Linked DNA regions of Homo sapiens. The protein of the gene in region 1 purifies or fractionates together with the protein of each later gene. This does not show direct contact. Each region holds a gene or a part of one and is shown on either strand. Other genes may lie near its edges. The genes, in order: SPATA13 and GLDC.

Region 1 (8,203 bases):
CAGTGGGATGGAGTGGAAGCTTACAGGGCTTTCAGAACCAAGCCAGAGTCAGTGAGTGGCAGAGACAGCTCTTTACTGCAAAATCCCAATGGCTTTCTGCAGATTCTGGCCTGCAGATTAGAAAATGGGACATTTTTAAAAACTGTGGTAAAATACACATAAGACTTACCATTTTAACAATTTTAAGTGTGCAATTCAGTACATTAAGTACATTCATATTGTTATGCAACCGTCACCATCATCCATCCACAGAACATTTCTCATCTTGCAAAACTGACATTCTGTCCCCATTAAGCAGTAACTCCCCACTTTCCCACTGCAGCCTCTGGCAATCACCATTCTACTTTCTGTCTGTGAATTTGCCTACTCCAGATACCTCATATAAGTGAAATCCTACAGTATCTGTCCTTTTGTGATGGGCTTATGCATTTAATGTAATGTCCTCAGGGTCCACCTGTGTTGCAGCGTGTGTCGGAATTTTGTTCCTCTTTAAGGCTGAGTGATATTCCATTGTATGTATTTACTACATCTTGTTTATTCATCCATCCATTGATGAATACTTGGGTTGCTGTCACCTTGTGGCTGTGTGAATACTGCTGCTATGAAAGTGGGTGTACAAATATCTGTTCGAGTCCCTGCTTTCAGTTCTTTTGGGTATATCCCAGAAGAGGGATTGCTGGATGATACGGTAATTCTAGTTTTTTGATTTTTGAGGAATTGCCATACCTGTTGTCCACAGCAACTGTGAGGACAGCGTGAGACCGTTTATTCTCCTCTTTTGCCTGTAGCTGCCCTGCCCATTCGTATTCCCCCCTCCAAACCCAGGTGTGATGGGGGCCCTGTCTCCGAGCAGACAGGGAGGCACCGTAGATGGCACACTGGATCTGGCTCCTGGCCCACCCCATCTGTACTCTAGTCCTTTGGCCTTGATGACCCATTCCTGGAGGCAAAATGCTTTCCTCTCTGTGCCTCAATTAATTGGGTTTCCCAGCACCCCAATAGCCAAATAGATACTTATGTGCTAAGATAATGTGATAAATGCCAAACATTATTCTGTCATCCTAGGAAGCTTCAAATTAGAGAGAGATCTGCTCTAGTAAACTGTAGAATAAAATATAGCAAACGCACCTTATCCATTCTAATCAATGATAGCCACCAGTTATTGAGCATTTGACCACGTGCCAGGCAGTGAGCTGGGACTTTACATACATTATTACACTTAATTTTCACCATAAGATATCACAGATAAGGAGCCGGTCAAAGTGAGGTTATGAAGTTTTCCTAGAACCCACATGGACAGAGAGCAGAAGAGGCTCAGGTTCTCTCCTGCTCTCTTGGGTCTTGCCTTATGTGCCAGAGGCATCTGTGGTTCAACCAACCCCCTTTTGTCCCCTGCCACCTTCACAACCAACAAGATGCTGGAGGCTGCTAGATGAAGATAAAAATGTCAGTGATATTACTGACAAAATCATCTGGAGAATGAGTGCACAATTGTTGCTAATGATCTCTGAGTGACCTCCCAGCTCCTTTGCCTCTGCTTCCCTAACCCGGTCTAGACCTTAAGTTACTTCCTCCAGGTGAAAGTCTGGTCTGTGGCATCCAGACACTGACCGCAGATTTCTCCCAGCCGTAGTCTGGGCGGAAAGGTTAAAAAAGAGTGAATACTCTGTGCTGTTAATAAATTAATAAATCAGGTTATTCTATCAAGGGAGTCTACCAATGGATTTCTCCAACCAGTCAGGTAACTCCTTTTTCTTTTTTTTCTTTTTAATATATTTTTTTGAGATGGAGTCTCGCTCTGTCACCCAGGCTGGAGTGCAGGGGCGCGATCGCGGCTCACTGCAAGCTCCGCCTCCCGGGTTCACGCCATTCTTCTGCCTTAGCCTCCGGAGTAGCTGGGACTACAGGCGCCCGCCACCACGCCCGGCTAATTTTTTTTGTATTTTTAGTAGAGACGGGGTTTCACCGTGTTAGCCAGGATGGTCTCGATCTCCTGACCTCGTGATCTGCCCGTCTTGGCCTCCCAAAGTGCTGGGATTACAGGCGTGAGCCACGTGCCCGGCTGGTAACTCCTTTTTCTGCAGTAGAGGGTGGGGCGGAAGCCATACGGGTTACTTTATAGGAGCTCCTCAAAGAAAAAAAACTGAAATGAGGAGAAAGGAGTTTCCTTTCTGCCCTGTACCTCTTGAGAAACCCCTGCTGAATGGAACTTTCAGCAGATGGAATACAGCATTGCTTCTCCCCAACCCTGGGGGAGCTCACAGCACTGCTTTGTTCAGAGCATTTTCAAACAGGAGCATGAGATCAAATCCTGGCTCCACTGCTCACCAGCTGTGTGACCTCAGATGATTCGTTCAACCCTTCTAACTTCATTTGCCCCATATATAAAATGAGAAGGATAACTGTACCTCAAGGATTGTCTTGAGGATTTAAGAAAATGATGAATGTAAACAACGTGGCATAAGTGTCCAACAAATATTAAGGGAAAGACACATTCTAGTTTTGGAGATGTTATGTGGAACAACAACAAAAAAAGCGCGTTAGACTTAGTGAGAGGTGGTAGTTTCTATCCTTAGACACTCTCCTGCAGAAAGCATCAGTGTTGTTAGGACGAACTTGGGTGAAAGTTTTGAATATTCAGGCTCCAGTTAGAGTCTTGAGTACCAAAAGATCAGCAGAGAAGAAAAGAGGTCACCGACCTTTGGAGGTTCCCACTTGCAGGAAACAACAGAATGCAGATGCCGGCCTTGTCTGCGAGGCTGTGAGTGATGGCGGCCATGTGGATAGAGAGCCATGTTGACAGAAAGCCACTGCGGGAGACCTAGGCTTTTACACAGAGGCCACATTGTGATTCCCGCAGGAATGGTAGAAATGGAAGGAAATTTAGCTATTGCTCGTCCTAATCTCTGACTTAACAGAATGGAAAAGCAAGAATAAGCGTCGGCTGGTGATGTACTCCCGTGATGAACACAGCTGGTTAGAGCCAGGTTGGACTGCGCCGCCTCTTCATGTCAGATCAGTGAATTTTCTCTTGAGCCATCCTGCCTTCCTCTAATAGATTTGTAATCTGAACCCAGACATATCTTTTATCCCAGGCGCTCAAAAGGTTTTCACTGAAACCCTGAAAAAAATATTTTTTAAAACTCACAAACAAACAATCAGCAAGCACCTGTATGTGCTAAGTTGATAGATAGTAAGAGTCTTACATGGGCTAAAGTTTTAATTCTCCACCCAATGCAGAGTGAGGTCCCACTGTCACCGGCTCACTGACGAGGAAGCTGAGATTCAGCAAGGTCCAGCACTCGCCCAGGGCTTGTACAGGGCCTCAAGGATGCGGGGGTCTTCAGGTCTAGTTGGTATCACTCCACAGAAATCCATTCATCTGAGGGCCAGGCCTGTTTCCCAAGGACATAGTTTCAAATATAGTGCTTTCTTCACTATAAAAAGTATTGCATGTAAATGTTAATAGTGGTTTCCAAGTAGGCAGAAATAACCTTTTGAAACACAATTTTTTTAAAAGAAAAATCAAAATCTGCTCCTCAGATTTGTGCTAATTCTAAAGAGATAATAAAAAAACCCTCAATTTAGACCGTGATATTTTTTTTTAAATAATACTAACATAGATTTCATTTTAGCATTTGTGAGTGCTTTGTGCAGATTTTTTATAGAGTAGAAATAAAATGGAACAGTCAATGATATTAGCCTCACATACTATGTTTCTAAAATTTTCCAAGGTTTGGTTTTTATATTTTTTCAGCTTTAAAAATACATGGTCATTGTTAAAACTTGGGGTAATTTCAATAACAATTCAAAGAATTAAATAAAATTTGCCCATATTTCCACCACCCACAGATAATTATCATTAATCTTGGAGTGTGCTTTAATTAATAGACTATTTTTAGAGCAGTTTTAGGTTTAGAAAACAGGAATGGAAAGTACACGGAGTTCTGATGTACTCCCTCACGCCCCTCCCTCCACACACAGCTGCTTGTACTGACATCTTACATTCGAGTGGCACATGTGTTATGATTGATGGGCCCATGTTGTTACATTAAGATGAACTAAGTCCATTACTTACAGGAGGCTCACGCCGCATGCTGTTCATTCTGTGAGTTTTGAGAAATGCATAATGACATGAAGCCACCATTATAATGTCATACAGAGTTTTTTCAATATTTTAAAAAACATACATAAAATTAATTTTCACTTTTCATTGGGTAATATAATTTTTGTTTTTTATTTTACAGATTGTGGGTATTGTTCTTTGATTATAAAAGACAATAGACATTTATAAATAATAGTGCTGGCCACTAAATGAATCATCTAAAAAACTACACTGGTAGAAAGCATGCATTTATTTTATGAATTCCATTAGCTGCCTATCAGGGAACATGGAGCACTGGGGCACAGATCCCAGCACAGAAGGGTTTGCTTCTCTTCTGTGGTTTTCATGTCAATTAATGATTAGGCCTTGAGCCTCACAAGAAAGGTGATAGGCCTTTGAGTCGGTTTACTGCAACAGTCTACTCAAGACTTGCCCCAGGCCCTGGGAAACATGTAGGTTTAAAAATCCCTACCCTGCGTTTTCCTTTCACAGGGAGTGAACTTCTGGCCCAGGCAGTGGGCAGTGGGGCACGGTTGCCCCGGAGATGAGACTCCTCTTCCCGCCCTGGGGGGTGGGGGCTGGCTGGTGGCTGAGGGAACTATTTTTGTTTGTTTCTTTTTTTAAAAAACGGAGTCTGGCTGTGTCCTCCAGGTTGGAGTGCAGTGGCGCGATCTCGGCACACTGCAACCTCCGCCTCTCGGGTTCAAGTGATTCTCCTGCCTTAGCCTCCTGAGTAGCTGGGATCACAGGCGCCTGTCACCACGCCCGGTTAATTTTTATTTTTATTAGAGACGGGGTTTCACCATGTTGGCCAAGCTGCTCTCAAATTCCTGACCTCAGGTGATCCGCCCACCTCGGCCTCCAAAAGTGCTAGGATTACAGGCAAGAGCCACTGCGCCTGGCCGGGGAACTGTTTTTGATGGGTGGGGTCCCCGGCTGTGGTTGGTAGTGTGGGGGCGTGGCCGAGGGTGTGGCCTGAGGGAGTGAGCTAACCGGGGGCGTGGCCTGATATGGGGCGGGGGGAAGAGCCGGGCTGGGGGCGTGGCCTGGTGGGGAGCGGGGCTGGGGCGTGGCTTGGCTGAGTGTGCTGCCGCGGCGCGGGAGGAGAGTGTGCGTTGCGCTTTCTCCCGCGATCGCCCTGCCGGTCGCTAGCTCCGAGGGCGCGCACTGGATCCCAGGCTCCTCCGAGAGTGCGGCGACCTCGGGGCTCCGCCGGCACCGGAGGTGGCTCTGAGGGCAGGGACGTGTTGGACACGCTGACTTTGTAGGCTCCGCCAAGAGGCGCCGCAGGAGGTAAGACGGCTTCGGGCGCGCGGCTCTGCCGGGCGGGCGCGGGCATGGGCTGTTAGGTAGAATATCGGGAGGATTTGAGTCCCAGTGGACTGCCTCGGGGCTTCGGGATGTCCAGCTCCCAGCTGCTTGGCCTCTGCTTCCCCCGCCGGTGGAGGCTACCGGGTGCTCACCTGTTAGGTCCGTGCGCCCGCTCCCTGCCCGGCGGTGGCTCTGCGCCCTCTGGGCCACCCGGCACCATCGCTTTTGGGAGGACATGCACGTGGTGTTCTCGCAAAAGGCCGTTTCCAGCCGGAAGCCTGCAGGGAGGTCGCCTTGTAACTTCACCCGCGCTCCCAGCTCGCGGGGCCTGGCCTACAGGGGCGGCCGTGGGGGTGGCAGAGTCTGGGGAGCCTGGCGCGGCGGAGCCCTGTAACGCTCTGCTCCATCGGGTGGCGTGGCTGGTGCCTCCGGGGACCCGGAGCGATGCGGTTGGAGAGCTTAGTTTAGAAAGCAAGTTTCTCTTGGTACCAGCGGAGTCTCGTCCCAGGGGAAAGATTTTGGGACCCGGTGCCCATCGTCTGTGGACTGCAGGGAATGCATTGGCGGAGTTGGTTTGGTCCCATTCTGTGCAGGAGGTGGGGGAATTGGTACTCCAGCCCCAGGCAGGTAGAAGCCCGCGCTGCTGCCAGCGTCAGGGGGAGCTCGGGTGACTTGGGCTGGGCCACCCATCTGACTGCAAGGTTACAGAGCTTGAGCAAATTTCCCCTCCCTCCAAGTGCAGGAAAACCAAACCAAAGCAAGCAAACAAAACCCTGTGGGTCATTTGCTTCCCAGCATTGCATAGGGATGTGGATAAATAGAATAATACTGTGAATTTATTCAGCTCTTGTTCCCATGGCTTCCCATAGCCTTATATTATGCACCTCCCCCTGCCAGCATTTTCTCTGTCCCCACCTTCGGTTTTTGCTGCCTCGTGTTTTCTTCTCTGTGAACCTTTCCTGGTCACCCAGCGATTTGCTCTCCTTTATTCCCCTTGCTAACAGGCGGAGAAATCTCACTCCTTTTCTTTTTCCACCTTTCCCAACAAATTCTCCTTTTTTCCTAATGTCCCCCTCCCCCGTCTTGCAAACTTCCTCACTGCATTATTCTCGGGGTGCCTGTCATGCACCCTCCCTGTTCTCTGCCCTCCTCCCGCACTTTAGAGTTTCATGTGGCTTTGTCTTATTATCCCATATCCTAATTCTCATCTACCTCCCTTGGCCCCCACGTTTGCCATCTGCCTCCACCCAGTTCTCCCATCTCCTTCCTTATTTGTGCTCCCGTGCATATGCAGGTTTCTTCCTTGTTTCCCCATGTTTCTCCCACAGGTGCTTTCTTCCCTTTGCCCTACTTCTCCCTGGCAGGCGCTCTGCCCAGCCACAGCCTGCCCCGCCTGGAGGGCACACCTTGCCTCAGTGCCTTCTGCTGCGGTTTTCCATGCTCCATCAGCATCCCTGGGTTCCTTGTGTTCTTCCAGTCCGCCCTCTGTCACCTTGCAGACGGCTTTCTCTCCGAATGTCTGCAAGTGTCAGAGGCGAGGAGTGGCAGCTGCATCTCTGCAGGAGGACTCTGGATTTCAGGACCCTCCCTTCTGCCACTGCTTCTGACTGATTGTTTTCTTATTGAAGTCGTATCCTCTACATAGTTCTAGAATTAATGTCAATATTGATGTTAGGTAGCATCTACCAAACTCTGGGTGTGTGCCAAGCACTGTTCTGAGGGCTTAACGTGCATCAGTACTCATTTAAAATCCTCCACACATCCCTATAATGTAGGATCTACTACTGTCCCCATTTGACAGATGAGAAAAGGAAGGCTCAGAGGAGGTAACCGGCATGGCTTCTTGCCACTGCCTAGCAGTGGAGGCCCTCTTCTCACCAGACAGTGGAGCTTCCCTGCTGGGTGACCTCTTGAACTCAGGCATGCCTGGAGTTTAGCTTTGGAAAGGAGGTTGTTATATGACATGTTTTATTTAGTCTGCAATGTACACCAGTGGAGGACATGAATTCTATACCTGTAGGACAGTGCATGGAGAAAAACCTAATGCCGGCTGTCCCTCAGAAAGCCTGGGGCCAGTGCCTGGGCTGTCACCTCATCCATGCTATCAGTCTACTTTCCCTCTTAGCCACAGGAAGCCCTGAAGAAAGTGGCATAAAAATGACCTGGCTGGGCACAGTGGCTCATGCCTGTAATCCCAGCACTTTGGGAGGCCGAGGTAGGAGGATTGCTTGAGCCCAGGAGTTCAAGACCAGCTTAGGCAGCATAGCAAGACCCCATCTCTAAAAAATAAAAATAAGAAATCAGCTGGTTGTGATGGCGCACTCACCTGTAGTCCAAGGTGCTCAGGAGGCTGAGGTGAGAGGATCTCTTGAGCCTGGGAGGTTGAGACTGCAGTGAGCTATGATTTTGCCACTACACTGCAGCCTGGGTGACAGAACGAGAGACTCTGTCTCTAAAAAAATTAAGTTAAATTAAAAAAGAAGACTACTGCCAGCTGTCTCCTCCCGTGCATTGAGAGTTCCGTTTCACTTTAGCTGGACAGATCTTTATGGTCTCTGTTAGCTGTGTGACTGTATGAGTCTTATTTATATCCATTTCATTATGTAATCTTAAAGCCTTGTCCAAACATTTCTTTTTTAGTCTTTATCTTCCTAAGAGTTGGAGGCAAGTAGTATTTCTACTTTACAGATACTGAAGCAGAGCATGCACCTTGATAGCTGAAAGGGACTTTATATTCTACAGATGAGGAAACCGTGGTCCAGGGAAATAAAATGGCATATTCAAGGG
Region 2 (7,268 bases), on another chromosome or scaffold:
AAGACTGCACCAATTCTTATGGCCTACTTTCTTCCCAGAGTACCTCACATGTGATGGAGTTGGCATATATATTAAATACATAACTAATGTAAAGAGAATGAGAGAGCACCAAATAAAACAACAGTAGTACTTTGGTATCATTAAGGGGGTCCAAAGTAAAAAGGGGCCACATTGCTCCAGGCTGGTCAAAGAAGGGTTCCTAGATTAAGAGCCAGAACTTGGCTAGAAACTTAGAAATAAGTAGAATTCGGATAGGGAAAGAGAAAGGAGAAGGTATACCAGGTGAGAAGAATGGCAGAAATGAAGGCGTGGAAGGGGAGGGCACATGACTGTCATCTGGGAGTGGATGTAGGGCAAGGTGAGTTGTGACTCCATTTTTAAGCCCAAAACTTCTCTAGGAAGGACTTCGACTTTGTCCAGCCAACCACTGGCTCTCAACCTATGTCTCATGGGGGGATTTTTTAAAAATGCAGACGGCTTAAGTCCAACCCTACATGTGCTCAGTTTGGTTCTCCTTGGAATGGGGCCTAGGCATGTGCATTCTGAAAGAATCCCCTAAGGATTTCGTGCAGGCTAGTGAGAACCAGGTAAAGCAACAGGAAGCCACGAGAGATACGTGGGGGCCTAGGGTGAGTCTAGCAGTCCTGTAGGTGCGCCTGTGGAATTGCAGCAGGGAGAGAAGCAGCTAAAGCTAGAGTCCAGGGGATAAGTAATAACAGCCTGAAATAAGAGAAGGCCCAAGGCCAGAGGGGGCAGCTTAAACCCTACTTTATTTATTTAGTTTTTAAACTGAGGCACCAGCTGTTGTTCCAGGCATGTAGCCAAACCAACCTTGGGGCATTTATTTCCTATATGTGGGAAGTCATCTCCAACCCAAATATGTTCATACAAATAACCCAGATTTACAGAACCCAGAGATCAAAAGGGAAGTGGAATTTGATTCTGCTTACAAAGAAGCAGACCTTTATTCTGATTGCTTGTGTTGTTTGCAAAACAACTTGAGTATCATTTTTAAAAGCAAGTGTTAGTGTCTGAGGTACAGAATTGTTCCGGCTTCCAAGAAACTTTTCGTGAAGAATCATAAATGCCATGCTGTTCCAGAAATAAACAGTCAGCTCCACAGAGTCCTCTGGAATGATTGGCATAGCTGCGTTTTGGGGGTTTTGTTTCAGTGGGAGCCCGCCTTCCTTTAAAGAGGGGCACTGCTTTGGGGAGACTGCTCTAATGAGCAGCCAAACAAGTGTTCTTATTCACAGTCTTGTCAGTCCAGGAGGTGGGCAGGGCAGTGTGAACAAGAACTGTAGAAAATCAACTCTGGCCCTGGTGTTATTTGGAATAAGACAAAGGAAGGAAGCCTGTACTCTGACTAATTACGCAGAGAGCACAGCACCACAAACCCTAAAGGCCAAAGAGCTCTGGGGAAAAACCAGAGAAGCAAATTTCTGCTATTTTTCATCTTCTCCTCTGGCCCCCCCCAAGAAATATATAGCAAAGTGAGATATATAGCAGGATCTCAGCAAAGTGGAATAATTAGTACATGCACTGCTTTTCACTCGGAAGGGGCTATATAAATCCTGCAGGAAACCAAAGGATGCGGCCAGAACATCCATATGACTCATGGAACTTAGCTGTGTCTGGAAAAATATATCTGATGTTTCAGTTTCTCTGATGTTAAACCCACTCTGAGAACCCAAAAGAAGTAGTGTAATGAAGGAGAGATGAAATGATTTTTAGCTCATCTCTTCAGGAAGGTTTCTTCCACCCAGGCCATCAGCAATATTCTTTGAACCACATCTCAGATCATGAATTTATTTGTTTTTAAGCCAAGAAGTCTGCAGTATCCGGTCCCCATGCATGCCTGACGCCCCCACCCACCTGCACACCTGCACATACTCCCAGGCCTCACCTTGATATAAGCCCAGGAAATGGGCAAGATGGAACTGGAGCCCCATGGGGCCGCACTGACGGTTCCCACAGGACAGGCATCCTCATTCCGCTTTAGTGAAATGACGGGATGATTGGGCAAAAACGGGGCGAGATGTTTCTTCCTGTATTTTTTTTAAGTGCAAATTCAGAAAATGTAAACGATTCAGTTTAATCTAATGGGAAGGTTCTGGGCCCTCCCAGAAAGCCTTGTTCTTAGCAGAGGAGCTCTGACAGTGGAAGGGACTCTCCACCTGCTGGGAGGCAGATGTTCAGGAAGCGATCCTTCCTTCCTTCCTCCTCTGGTGGAGGTCCACCAGCCATCAGTGTCCCAGGGCTCACCCAAGAAATGTGGTGGAGGGCTTGATAGAGGCAGGCAGCCATAAAACAGTGGAGTTCCATGTCCCTCCCTCCCACTCCCAGCCCCATTCCCTCACCCCTATACACTTTCCCAAGATGGACATAGGAGGGGCTGATGAGAAGATGCCCCATGGGCTGACATGAACATCATTCTCCCCACCTCCCTGACAGCTGAAGCACTGGAGCTCACACATTTACTAGAAATAATCATCATCAAAATGAATCTCACTTTAACCGTAGTCCAAGAAAAAAAAAACAAGAAAGAAGAAAAAAGTAAGAAGGCCAAGCTTCCAGCAACTCTGAAAACTGACTTCTTTAGCATATTTTTGGGAGACTGAAGCAGCTCAGGAAAACAGCTGCTCTCATCATCATTTTCCCAAGATGATTTGATTTCAGTGTAAAAAGTTATCCACAGCTAAGAAATATTCCTTCAGTCCTACTCTGGCTTCATCCAATTATTTCTAGTAACCAGGTTTGTTTCTTCCTTACTTATGTGTTACTTATCTCAACACCTTACATCTAATTCACTTTCAATGGAACCATTAGCTGATTTTAAAAAAGAAAAAAAAAATGCTAGGAAATCCAAAAGTCCGAAAGGCACTTTCTAGTGCCAATATTCCAGTTACAATACGTATGCTCAGGTGAAGTTCCCTATTCATTATTCTGTTAATAAACCTGCTGTCTATGTGCAACTGGAAGCTCAGTGAGGCCAGATGCTATGGTTAGTAAAATCTAATTACGCTTTTCTTTGGAAATCCCCTAAAAGCACCCATTTTGCTGCTCCTCCCCCAGCCCCTACAAGTGCACTACACCGATGAGGGTATCCTCAACACATGAAGACTTTGATGGGATGAGTAGTCTATTTAGGGCCACTCCTTCATTCTGTCTCCAAAGCCATCCTGAAACCAGCAGCCCAGAACTTACACTCCGATGGGCCCCATGCCAGGACCACCTCCTCCGTGGGGAATGCAGAAGGTCTTGTGAAGATTTAGGTGCGAGACATCAGACCCGAAGTCTCCAGGGCGACAGATTCCCACCTACCACAAAGGCAAGGGCCAAAAGCAAAAGTCAAGAGCTTGGAAGCACCCTCCAGTGTGAAGGCCATGGCTGGCCGGTGCTGCCTTCTCCCCTCAGAGGAAAAGCAGGCAGAGCCACATCCATGGTGTTCACAGAAATGTCCTCTATACTGGCCCAGTTCCGTAGTCACAAACTGGCATCCGATAGGCAGAGTGCTTGTGGTTGCTATGGAAATAGCAACTGACCATTTAGTCCAATTTAGATTTAAAAATATGGATTTGAATACACAGTCTCTTCCTAATTATCCACACACCACAAAGGGAGAGAAGTGTCTCTAACACAAGAAAGGGCAGAACCTCCATGTTGTTGAAATAGGCAACTCTTCCCTGAGCAGCGCTACCTTCCCCTGCGTGGTCGGCTTTAGTATGATGCACGTTACCGAACGGCCCCGTTGGGCACAGTGATGGAAGGGGCTGCGGGGGCACCAGGGAGGAGGCTGAACTGAGAGAGGGAAGGCAAGGCTCGCAGTCTTCCCGAGATGACCCAGATACCAGGCATGCCATCCCACTAGCCTTCCCACCACTTGGGTGTTAGGACTAATTTTGATGGTGACCAAAGGTACAGAATTCATTTATGCTACAGAACCAATAGACAATCTCTGGATTACACTTGTGAAATGAATGAGAACCAAAGAAAGGCTCTAAAATGGTAGGAAAAAAAAAAGAGGTCGGGCGTGGTGGATCACACCTGTAATCCTAGCACTTTGGGAAGCTGAGGCAGGTGGATTGCCTGAGCTCAGGAGTTCAAGACCAGCCTGGGCAACACAGTGAAACCCCATCTCTACTAAAATACAAAAATAAAAATAAAAAAATTTAAAAAAATTAGCTGGGTGTGGCAGCATGCACCTGTAGTCCCAGCTACTCGGGAGGCTGAGGCAGCAGAACTGCTTGAACCCAGGAGGTGGAGGTTGCAGTGAGCAGACATCGCACCACTGCACTCCAGCCTTGGCGACAGAGTGAGACTCCATCTAAAAAAAGAAAGAAAGAAAGAAAAAGGAAAAAAGCAAACACCAATAAGAGTCTCAAAAAGATTGTGTCACTCCTCTCCTGCAGGGGCTCCCAACAGCATTTCTTCAGAGGTTCACAGTACATAGATCCTCTGTCCCCCAAGTAATCAGGATTGGGCCCTTTGAGCCCCCATTTCACAGCTGATAAAGCTGATGCCAGGATAAGTGGCTTTCCAAGGCCATGAGAGATCAACAACCACCAGTGGTCAGGTCGTGGGTCTGAGTTCCCTCAGGCAGGAAGCCTCTCAAGAAGTCAGAATTTTTTTTTTTTTCCACATATCCATTTTCTCAGTGGGAACTAAGGGCGGGCCTCTTCAGTTCCCACCTGAGCATTCATATTTGCCCCGTCTAGGTAGACCTGTCCTCCATGTTGATGGATGAGGTCACACACGTCACTGATGTTCTCTTCAAACACCCCATTGGTGGATGGGTATGTAATCATGATAGCTGCTAGGTTCTCCTTGTGCTTATCCACCTGTGAAAGAAAAGGGGTAGAGAAGGACATGGAGGGAGGATATGTTTCTTTCTTGGCCAAATCCTCGCCTTTCATTTTAAAGGATGAAGAAAGATGAAGTCTCAGTCTTTACTTTCCTGGAACTGTCTCAAAGTACAATGACAGCAATAAAAAAAAACCACAGCCATTACTCCCTTCACAAATCATTCCAAAGAAATAATAAGATCCTGGCTGGGTGTGGTGGCTCATGCCCGTAATCCCGGCACTCTGGGAGGCCGAGGCGGGCAGATCACCTAAGGTCAAGAATTCGAGACCAGCCTGGCCAACATGGTGAAACCCCGTCTCTACTAAAAATACAAAGATTAGCCGAGCATGGTGGCAGGTGCCTGTAATCCCAGCTACTTAGGAGGCTGAGGCAGGGACAATTGCTTGAACCGGTGAGGTGGAGGTTGTAGTGAGCCAAGATCACACCACTGCACTCCAGCTTGGACAACAGAGAGAGACTCCACGTCAAAAAAAAAAAAGAAAAAAGAAAAAAAGAAATAATAAGATCCTTTCAGGCTAGGTCTCTATGGTCCAGACCAAAAGGACTATTCACAAGATTTTTGGATATTTTGGGCCCAACTCTCTAAGGTGGTTTTCCCTTGGTTCAAGTCATCTCAATAACGATTTCAGACGTTTGTGGTTCTAGGTGCGTCCATTCTCATAGTTAATCTCTCTGCTCATCTTCTCATATCCATTCCTTTCCCTTGCCTTCTGTTGAAGTTAAAATTCCCAAATTACAGCTAGATAGGAGGAGTAAGTTGTAGAGTTCTATACCACTGCAGGATGACTATATTTAACAATATATAATTTTGAATAGTTAGAAGGAGGATATTGAACGTTCCCTCAACACAAAGAAATGATACATGCTTGAGATGATGGATATGCTGATTACCCTGATCTGATCTCTATACATTTGATGTATAGAAACATCACTATATACCCCATGACTATGTACAACTATTGTCATTTAAAAAGATAAAGAACAGAGGCCAGGCGTGGTAGCTCACGCCTGTAATCTCAGCACTTTGGGAGGCTGAGGCGGGCGGATCATGAGGTCAGGAGATCGAGACTATCCTGGCCAATACGGGGAAACCCTGTCTCTACTAAAAATACAAAAAGTAGCTGGGCATGGTGGCACACGCCTGTAGTCCCAGCTAATCAGGAGGCTGAGGCAGGAGAATTGCTTGAACCCGGGAGGCGGAGGTTGCAGTGAGCCGAGATCGTGCCACTGCACTCCAGCCTGGGCGACAGGGTGAGACTCCGTCTCAAAACAAACAAACAAAAAGATAAAGAACAGGAATTGGAAAAAAAAAAAAAAAAAGAATTCCCACAAGAAGTGTTTCTGTAAATAAAAGTCTTCTTTATTCTTTCCTTTTACAGAAGGCAAGCATATATAAAAGTCACATCCCTGTTTGTTTTCCTGGCCAGCATATCAGAGCAGGCATGTTTGAGAACATGGGGGTGGCCAGGGAAGTCATGTCCTATATTACTATAATGGAGGGACTTAATAATTTCAACTACTGGCCTGGAACACTTGTTGGAAAAAAGCTTTGTGGAGCAATGGAAGGGTAGAGGTGGATCGAAGAGAGGTGCAGCATTGTGGATTTTCAGCTTCCTTTAGAAGGCAACTGCACAGAGTTCACAGTCTCCATGCCTAATAACACCACCATCAAAATCACATTGCTATTCCACTGGTTTCCTTCCCGCTTAAGATGCAGCTGCCAGTCCGCTGGTGGGAAGCAGATACGGTTGCTAAGCAACTTCTTCCTGGAGGTTGGGAGGTTGAGAGTGGGGGTTGGTGGAAACCAAGCTGCATGATGCCAGGAATTCAGCATGATGGGGCTGGCACAGTCATGGATATTTGCAAAGCTGACATTTGTGTTACAATTCCTGACACGAAGATGTGTAAGTGTGACTGCCATTTTGATTATTAAGTGGGGAAGGCGAGAAGGAGAGGGAAGATTGGGCAGAAAGAGGCAGGCAGGTTCTGCAAGGAGTACTCTTACTACCACCATGAATAATTCATTCAGTTTTTTACACAAGCTGGAATTAGAAAACGGGGATTTCTCCCTGTTGGTGATGGGAGGGGTAGAGTAGACTCTGGTCAAAGGAAGAACTGCAGACTTTTCATTAGAATGCAAGAGAAGACATTTACATAATCCATCAAGTCCCTGATCCCCACCAGCACTCCCCATCCCGGCCTCTCCCATCTGCTAAGGAGAAGACAAGTACCATGGCCTTGAGGTGAACTGCATCGATATTCCCATATTTATCCACCTCCACAGGCTGAATCTTCATGCCTGCCATGTGGGCACTTGCTGGGTTGGTCCCATGTGCTGATTTCGGAATGAGGCAAACCTACAGAATAGAAAGGAAGCAAAGAAAGAGCAAAATCATCATCAG

The links.
Region 2: the proteins of SPATA13 (region 1) and GLDC purify together in Homo sapiens (affinity purification with mass spectrometry; 2 studies listed by BioGRID and IntAct, with this or other methods). This does not show direct contact.

What each region holds. Positions count from the first base shown.
Region 1 is NC_000013.11:24,155,535-24,163,737, forward strand, and holds the start of SPATA13 (spermatogenesis-associated protein 13), read left to right. Parts: upstream 1-5,185; 5' UTR 5,186-5,398; intron 5,399-6,881; exon of another isoform or gene 6,882-6,970; intron 6,971-8,203. UniProt on the Homo sapiens protein: Acts as a guanine nucleotide exchange factor (GEF) for RHOA, RAC1 and CDC42 GTPases. Regulates cell migration and adhesion assembly and disassembly through a RAC1, PI3K, RHOA and AKT1-dependent mechanism.
Region 2 is NC_000009.12:6,551,462-6,558,729, forward strand, and holds part of GLDC (glycine dehydrogenase (decarboxylating), mitochondrial precursor), read right to left. Parts: intron 7,224-7,268; coding exon 7,098-7,223; intron 4,842-7,097; coding exon 4,692-4,841; intron 3,321-4,691; coding exon 3,208-3,320; intron 2,049-3,207; coding exon 1,907-2,048; intron 1-1,906. UniProt on the Homo sapiens protein: The glycine cleavage system catalyzes the degradation of glycine.